Regions from separate parts of the Homo sapiens genome. Here region 1 is reported to be linked to region 2. Evidence: microRNA targets listed by miRTarBase, many of them from high-throughput screens and not tested one by one. Region 2 holds a microRNA gene; the other region holds the end of a gene's coding sequence.
What was found. Region 2 holds the annotated microRNA hsa-miR-4271 (GGGGGAAGAAAAGGUGGGG, at 2,170-2,188, opposite strand). A microRNA usually pairs through its seed, bases 2 to 8, with sites in the 3' UTR of a target mRNA and lowers its output. Matches are read on the target gene's strand: a 7mer-m8 pairs with bases 2 to 8, a 7mer-A1 pairs with bases 2 to 7 and ends in A, and an 8mer does both.

Region 1: miRTarBase lists E2F3 as a target of hsa-miR-4271. Seed matches in the 3' UTR shown: 7mer-A1 at 1,360-1,366.

Annotation. Positions count from the first base shown.
Region 1 is chr6:20,489,817-20,493,880 of GRCh38, reverse strand. E2F3 (E2F transcription factor 3) reads right to left here. Exons shown (of 7, transcript NM_001949.5): 7 at 167-3,713. The coding sequence ends at 3,451. Among named protein-coding and RNA genes, the nearest start is that of CDKAL1, 43 kb to the left of the region's middle.
Region 2 is chr3:49,272,277-49,276,345 of GRCh38, reverse strand. It overlaps MIR4271 (microRNA 4271), which reads right to left and starts at 2,226; the gene lies at 2,160-2,226. C3orf62 (chromosome 3 open reading frame 62) reads left to right here. Exons shown (of 3, transcript NM_198562.3): 2 at 2,206-2,297.

The DNA of each region.
Region 1 (4,064 bases), not on the chromosome of region 2:
GGTTGCAGTGAACCAAGATTGTGCCACTGCACTCCAGCCTGGGTGAGAGTGATTGACTCTGCCTCAAAAAACAAAACAAAAAAAAAAAAAAGAAAAAGAAAATGAAAAAAATTCAATTAATAGAGGAGCACAAGATAATATTAAAGAAAACCCATCCACAAGCCTGAACTCTTAAAAAAAATCATTTTATTGATCCTTTACCATACAAAATTTATTCAAATTACACCCATTTGAAGTGGTAAGATCACAGCTAGAGAACAGGTCACCCTGTAACAAATCTATTTACAAAATCCATCATAAAAGCTTTTTTTTGTTTTTTTTTACATTATATTACATATTTTCTTTTTTAAACTAGCATACAACACAAAGCTAAACTGATTAGTAGTTTGCCTACTCCCAATTTTGGGAGAAATACTTCCTTTTTACAAAATCACGTACCCCGTAGGAAAAGAAATTCCCACACCCTGACAATTGCCACCCGACTTACTCTGCAAGCCATCTTCCTTCATATCCCTCCTTCTCATACACACGAGTTGTCATGCACACACTGAATTCTTATTTTCTTTTTCCTGAAAGCTTAAGCTTTAAATACTGCAATTTTATTTACAGATCTACACGTACAACAAAAATGAAAACAAGAGCCACAACAAAGAACAGAAAAACAAAAACAAAATAACACTCTTAAAAAATTACAAAGCAGCTAGAAAGTATTCTGGCAGTGTTTACAAATTAATTGCTATTTTTGTACAAAATTGCTAAATAATGAAAATGTGAGTAGACTACATATCAACTTAAATAAAACGATTGCTATGCACAACTCTGTACATATAAACACACTCCTAACACTGTTTGACAGCTCATGTGTTGCCCTTTATACATTTTATTTTCTAAGGCTCACGCAGTCATAATTTGCACACTTGTAACTTTTAGCCATTTCGTGTGTGAGCTTTAATAGCAGCAACTCAATGGTACCAGGAAACCTGCATACTTAGTACTTAAAGTAACGCAAATACTGTAGTACTAACCCACTTTGTGTGCCGGATACTAAGTCAAAAAGAAAATTACTTAATGCAAACAAAATACAGTATGGACATCTAATTAATGTACACCAGTTAAACCCAGTAACTGGAAAAAAATCTTATGCATGAAGGAACTTTTAAGACTTATTAGTATTCCTTTCATTTTAAAAACAATAAATACGGCATTACATTATGAAAAAATTCAACAAAACACACAACAATCTAGCCAGGTGAGCTCAGTCTTTAGACTTTGGAAAAAATCAGCTTTGTGCAGCTGGCAAAGAGAATTACACAAAGCTGGAAGCAGAGGCAGCTAACCAGATGAGATAAATATGGGAAATGGGGAAAAGCTTGGCATAAATGGTTTCCCATACAGGAAAAAACCCCACAGTGCATTTCCAGTAGGCACTTAACACAAAGCTCCCTCTCCCTCCCCCACCCCAATGCTTCATCTAGGACCACACCGACATTTTGTACCAAGTCCAGTGTGTGTGAGGGGAGGAGGCCAGGGATGGAGGCTGAAGAAGAAAAAAAGGAAGATAGTCTGCACCTTTGTTTTTCTTCCCAAACATACACCCACGCATACCCACACAAAGAGTTTAAAGTGCTGGTGTCATCTGTCTTGACCCCACCACCACTTTGCATATTGTGGAAATCTACCTGGAGTAAACTGGCTGGGGCTCTTGTGGTTTTTTGTGTGTTTTTTTTTTTTCCTAAGGGATATTTTCAATTCAATTAAACATATGAGTTGAGTGCCTACTATGTGCCTACCATTGGGTCAGGCACATAGCATTTCAATTTAACTGTTCGTTTCGAGGTTTGTTCTTTATCTGACTCCCTCATTCCCGCAGTCCTTAGCATCCAAGGAATGGACCGGAGATACTACGCCATATTCCCAGTGGGAGATGGCCGCTGCCACCTGCCCGAGGGAAAGCCATTCTTGGACATAACTGGTAGGATTTGCAGCTGACACAAAGCCTCCAACTTGGGACACCATTCCTGAAGAGTAAAGCGGGAGACACCCTGGCATTGTTTTGCTTCATTTTTTACGTCCCCGACTTCCCTTGGTCCAACTTATTCCTTCATAGAGGAAGGGGAACGGGGTCTGGCCAGAACTATTCCAGCCCCCGACACAGGGCTGCTCCCTGTTCCTGCCAGCTTAAGGAAATGCCACTCACACAATGGGGATGTCTTTCTCCCTAGAGGTCTCTCCATCTGACCCCATCCTGAGAAGTGGTCTCCCTGAGTGCGGTGTAAGAGAGCCCTTTCCCCTGTCACAGGGGCCCGGGAAGCCCAAGGATGGAGGGACCCATGCCTGCTGCTCCTTGGGGCTGTTACATCATCTGACCTGGTTCTCCTTTCCAATGGGCCACCCATGTCAGCAAGCCCCAGGACTGACTCGCTCCAAGCTCCCCCTCCTGGGAATGGAAGCACGATGGGACAAAGCTCCTTGCAGAGGCTGATAAACCTTAGATCACACAGGTTTAGATGCTCTGATCAGTAGAGGTTCTCTCCCTCTGCTTAAGTAATATGAATTTGCAAAAACCGCTTCAAAGTAAACAATTAAATTGAAATGGTGATGGGTGCCACAGGAATGCTTAAATGGCAGCTAAAAAAATTAAAAGTCTAGAACAATCCACAAAGAACTAAGTAGGCATTTGCTACAAATCAACTGGAAACTCACAAACACATTGGGGACGGGGGAATGGGAGTGGTTCATGGAGACAGGAAAATCCACAACAGCTTAGAGTGGCAGAACTCTACTAGTCTTCTGTATCTGCAACAAGTATATTTGAAAACAGGTTCTTCATCCAGAAGGCTGTGGAGGTTTTCTTGACCTCCTACTGGGACACACAGTTCATAGCTTAAACTGAATTATGACAGTAATTTAAATATTCCTAAGAAGAGCTGAAGAAATCCATTTCATACTTTTGCATGACTTCAAGTTTGCATTTGCTGCAGTTCCATTCCATATTAGCAGACCTCAAAGACATGCATTCTGCGGAGAAGGCACGGCTTGAAATGCTATTAAGGAAGATTGCTGTTTCCCAGCAGGCCAGGTGGCCAGACCCCATTCTACAGCCCATCCGTCAGGCACAGCAAGCCAATCCGGGGAGGAAGGAGGAAGGACAATTCGGGGTGAGAGACACCTGATTGCACATTTTCTCACTTGCTGACTTAGCCAGGAGATCTTGGAGCCTGGAGCAAAGCAGGGCTTTCCCAAGGGAGCCTGCAACTGTGCGTTTAGACAATTTGTTTATTAATTTTTTAAAAAATTCATTAAAATGTCAGCTTTCTTCTGAAGTTTGTAGTTTACTTCATGATACTCTCTTGGAGGAAGAAGGTAGGAAGGGACAACACTGCATGACAGATGTTCTGGTTCCATGATAAAAAAATATCGGTTTTTAAGGAGAGTTCACACGAAGCATAATCAACTACACATGAAGTCTTCCACCAGTGGGAGCTTTTCCAAATCGTAAGCATCGAAGAGATCGCTGATGCCTTCCTCCTCCCCGAGGCTCAGGAGATAGTCCTCTTGCAGCAGGGGAGGCAGTAAGTTCACAAACGGTCCTTCTAGGTTGGAAGGAATTTGGTCCTCAGTCTGCTGTAAGAGGTTGGCTGGGGAGGCCAGAGGAGAAAGGTTTCCCATAGAAACTGAGCAATCGCTATGTCCTGAGTTGGTTGAAGCCAAGTCTGAAAAGAAAACATTGATGGAAACAAAAAATAAGTTAGAAAAATCAAATGAATTTTTCTGGAAGAATGTATATGTTGCTGTTAGAAAAAAGCATGTACCTTCCGCAAATAATGACAATGAGACGACTTTATGATGCAGATCACCTTTTATGCTAACAGGTACAAAAAAGTTCCTTGCCACCCCCGTCCCCCTTTTAATTTTTGAGACAGGGTCTTATTCTCTTGGCTGGAGTGCAGTGGTGTGATCATGACTCACTGCAGTCTTGAACTTCTGGGTTCAAGGGACCCTCCCACCTCAGCCTCCCAAGTAGCTGGGACTCCAGGTGTGAGCCACCATGCCTGGTTAATCTT
Region 2 (4,069 bases):
GTTCATGACAGTGCTCTTGCCTCCTCTTGGCAGCTCTGTGACTGCATTTGGGGAGTTGACAGACATTCTTCAGAATCTGGCCTAGGAAACAGTTATATTTTGTGTATATGTTCCAGTTGAGGGGCTAGTTGTCAATCGTTGATGTCAAAAACCAGTCATGGAAACCACTTTGCAGTACCCAAAGGGGTAGTGGATGTAAAATAACCGGGTTTTAAAAATAACCTTATTTTTTAAGTTGCAGAAACAAAAGTCTTAATTCCATCTTAACTCCTGTGTTTGAATCTGGACACTGGGGCCTTTGATACCCTCCTTTGCCCACATTAGGGAGAGGCTTAATTGAAGGCTGGGCCCTACTTCCTGGCTTCATCTTTGCCTCTGCTCCCCGCTCTTACCCCAGATCTTTTTGGACCATCACCAGGTCTCTTCTAGACTTTTTCTTCTCCCGAGTAACTTGAAATTGCCTGGTCCCAGGCACCTTGACTTGGAGAAGGGATGAATGTATGAGATGAAACTTCAGGCCGGGCGCGGTGGCTCACACTTGTAATCCCAGCACTTTGGGAGGCCGAGGCGGGCAGATCACGAGGTCAGGAGATCGAGACCATCCTGGCTAACACGGTGAAACTCTGTCTCTACTAAAAATACAAAAAATTAGCCGGGCGTGGTGGCGGGCGCCTGTAGTCCCAGCTACTCGGGAGGCTGAGGCAGGAGAATGGCATGAACCCGGGAGGCGGAGCTTGCAGTGAGCCGAGATCACGCCACTGCACTCCAGCCTGGGCGACAGAGCGAGACTCCGTATCAAAAAAAAAAAAAAAAAAAAAAAAAAAAACTTCAAAGTTCTGCCATCTTGGCTGCTTCATAGGAAGGGGATAAAGAGGCCATTTAATTGGTTCAACTCCACAAGAATTTTTTTCCTTTCAACTCCACAAATATTTATATTGGTACTCATAAGCAGTGCAGGCCTTGCCGGGTGTGGTGGCACGCCTGTAATCTCAGCACTTTGGGAGGCTGAGGTGGGTGGATCGCTTGAGGTCTGGTGAAACCCCGTCTCCACTAAAAATACAAACATAAGCCGAGCGTGGTGGCGCGCGCCTATGATCCCAGCTACTTGGGAGGCCGAGGCAGGAGAATTGCTTGAATCCTGGAGGCAGAGGTTGCAGTGAGCTGAGATCTTGCCATGGCACTCCAGCCTGGGCAACAGAGCAAGACTCCATCTTAAAAAAAAAAAAATGCTGGGCACAGTGGCTCACGCCTGAATCCCAGCACTTTGAGAGGCTGAGGCGGATGAATCACCTGAGGTCAGGAGTTTGAGACCAGCCTGGCCAACATGGTGAAACCCCGTCTCTACTAAAAATAGAAAAATTAGCTGGGTGCCGTTGCGGCCGCCTGTAATCCCAGCTGCTCCAGAGGCTGAGACAGGAGAATCGCTTGAACCCAGGAGAAGGAGGTTGCGATGAGCCGAAATTGCGCCCTTGCACACCAGCCTGGGCGACAAGAGCAAGACTCTGTCTTTAAAACAAACAGGCCAGGCGCGGTGGTTCACTCCTGTAATCCCAGCACTTTGGAAGACTGAGGCGGGCAGATCACCTGAGGTCAGGAGTTCGAGACCAGCCTGGCCAACATGGTGAAACCCCCATCTCTACTAAAAATACAAAAATTAGCTGGGCGTGGTGGCAGGCGCCTGTAATCCCAGCTACTCAGGAGGCTGAGGCAGGAGAATCACTTGAACCTGGGAGGCAGAGGTTGCAGTGAGCCGTGATTGCGCCATTGCACTCCAGCCTGGGGGACAAAGCGAGACTTCATCTCAAAAAAATAAATAAAAAATAAAAATAAATAAATAAGTAAACAAATGCAGGCTGGGTGAGGTGGCTCATGCCCGTATTCCCAGCACTTTGGGAGGCTGAGGCGAGTGGATCGCCTGAGCCCAGGAGTTCGAGACCAGCCTGGGCAACATGGCTAAACCCTGTCTCTAAAAAAGAAAAAAATTTAATACAGTCTGCGATGCTCGTGAGTCATTATGGTAAAGCTGTTAGTCAATTTCTCCACTGATGTAGCAGTTTCCAATTGTCCTTTAATCAAAGCATAAATGACAAGGTCACCAGTAAGTTTTTGTCTTTGAGATTATCTAAAACTGAGTTTCCCTTCAATATTTTCTTGAAAGAGAATCTAATTCCCCACCTTTTCTTCCCCCCCACCTGGGGGCTGCAGGAAAGATATGGAGAGAGATTTGAAGGCTGACTCAAACATGCCACTCAACAATTCTAGCCAAGAGGTCACAAAGGATCTGCTTGATATGATTGGTGAGTACAGTGGGCAAGTCCATCCTGTCCTTGGGAAGATAGGTCCTTCACATGGGTCTGAGTCAGCAAATATCTCAGATATAAGAAATGCTCTCGGCCAGGCACGGTGGTTCATGCCTGTAATCCCAGCACTTTGGAAGGCCGAGGAGATCGAATCATGAGGTCAGGAGTTCAAGACCAGTCTAACCAATATGGTGAAACCCCGTCTCTACTAAAAATACAAAAATTAGCCAGGCGTGGTGGTGCACGCCGGTAATCCCAGCTACTCGGGAGGCCGAGGCAGGAGAATTGCTTGAACCCGGGAGGCAGAGGTTGCAGTGAGCTGAGATCTTGCCACTGCACTCCAGCCTGGGGGACAGAGTGAGACTCCCATCTCAAAAAAAAACAAAAAACACTCTCTTCTAGCTTGGGTACCATACATAGCGAGATCTGTCTCTTAAAATTTTTTTTAATTAGCTGGGCACAGTGGTGTGTGCCCATAATCCCAGCTACTAGGGAGGCTGAGGTGGAAGGATCACTTGAGCCCAGGAGTTCAAGCTATGATCATACCACTGTACTGCAGCCTGGGCAACTGTGCGAGACCTCATCTCAAAAGAAAAAACACCACCACCACTTTTTGGGGGGAGAGACAGAGTCTCATCATATTACCCAGGCTGGAGTGCAGTGGCACGATCACAGTTCACTGCAGCCTCAACCTCCCTGGGCTCAGGTGATCCTCCCAGCTCAGCCTCCCAAGTAGCCATAGTACTACACTAGTACTACAGGTGCACGCCACCATGATTGGCTAATATTTGTATTAGGGTTTTGCTGTGTTGTCCAGGCTGGTCTCGAACTCCTAGTCTCAAGTAATCCACTTACTGTGGCCTCCCAGTGCTGGGATCAGGCAAGAGCCACCACTCCCGGCCAAAACACTCTTATCTTTTTATTTGGTAGATGTTTTGCTCAGACTCTGCATTGATTAGGGAACTGAATGTTAACAAAACCTGTCCCTTCCCTCATACAACTGATTATCTTGTGAGGTGATAGATACATCAATCAGGTCATGTCATCAATGTTTAGATGCACTGAGTCCCTGAAGGCAAGGGATGGTGGCCACTAGGACATGGTGATTGAGCTTAAATTTTTAGGAAACAGGACATAGGCAAAAAGGAGAGAGTAATTTAGCTGGGGTCAGTAATTAAAGATTAGGAGAAAAGGGCTGGGCACAGTGGCTCACACCTTTAGTCCTAGCACTTTGGGAGGCTGAGGCGGGCAGATCACTTGAGGTCAGGAGTTCGAGATCAGCCTGGGCAACATGGCAAAACCCCTTCTCTACTAAAAACACAAAAAATTAGCCAGGCGTGGTGGTGCACACCTGTAATCCCAGCCACTTGGATGGCTGAGGCATGAGAATTGTTTCAACCCAGGAGGCAGAGGGCAGAGGTTGCAGTGAGCCGAGATCGCACCACTGCCCTCCAGCCTGGGTGACAGAATGAGACTCTGTCTCAAAAAAAAAAAAAAAAAAAAAAAAAAAAGATTAGGAGAAAAATTAGAAGTCAAAAGCTTTCCTATAATTCTACCACCCAGAGATAACCACTGTTAATATAGATATAGTATAGCATACATCCTGTCAGACTTTTTTTCTACATACAAATCTGAATGTCCTGTATGTGAACTACATGTGCTCTATTTTTTATTTTGTCTTTTTATTATTAGTAGTAGTATTTTTTATAAATAGAGACAAGGTCTTGCTTTGTTACCCAGGCTGGTCTTGAACTCCTGGTCTCAAGTGA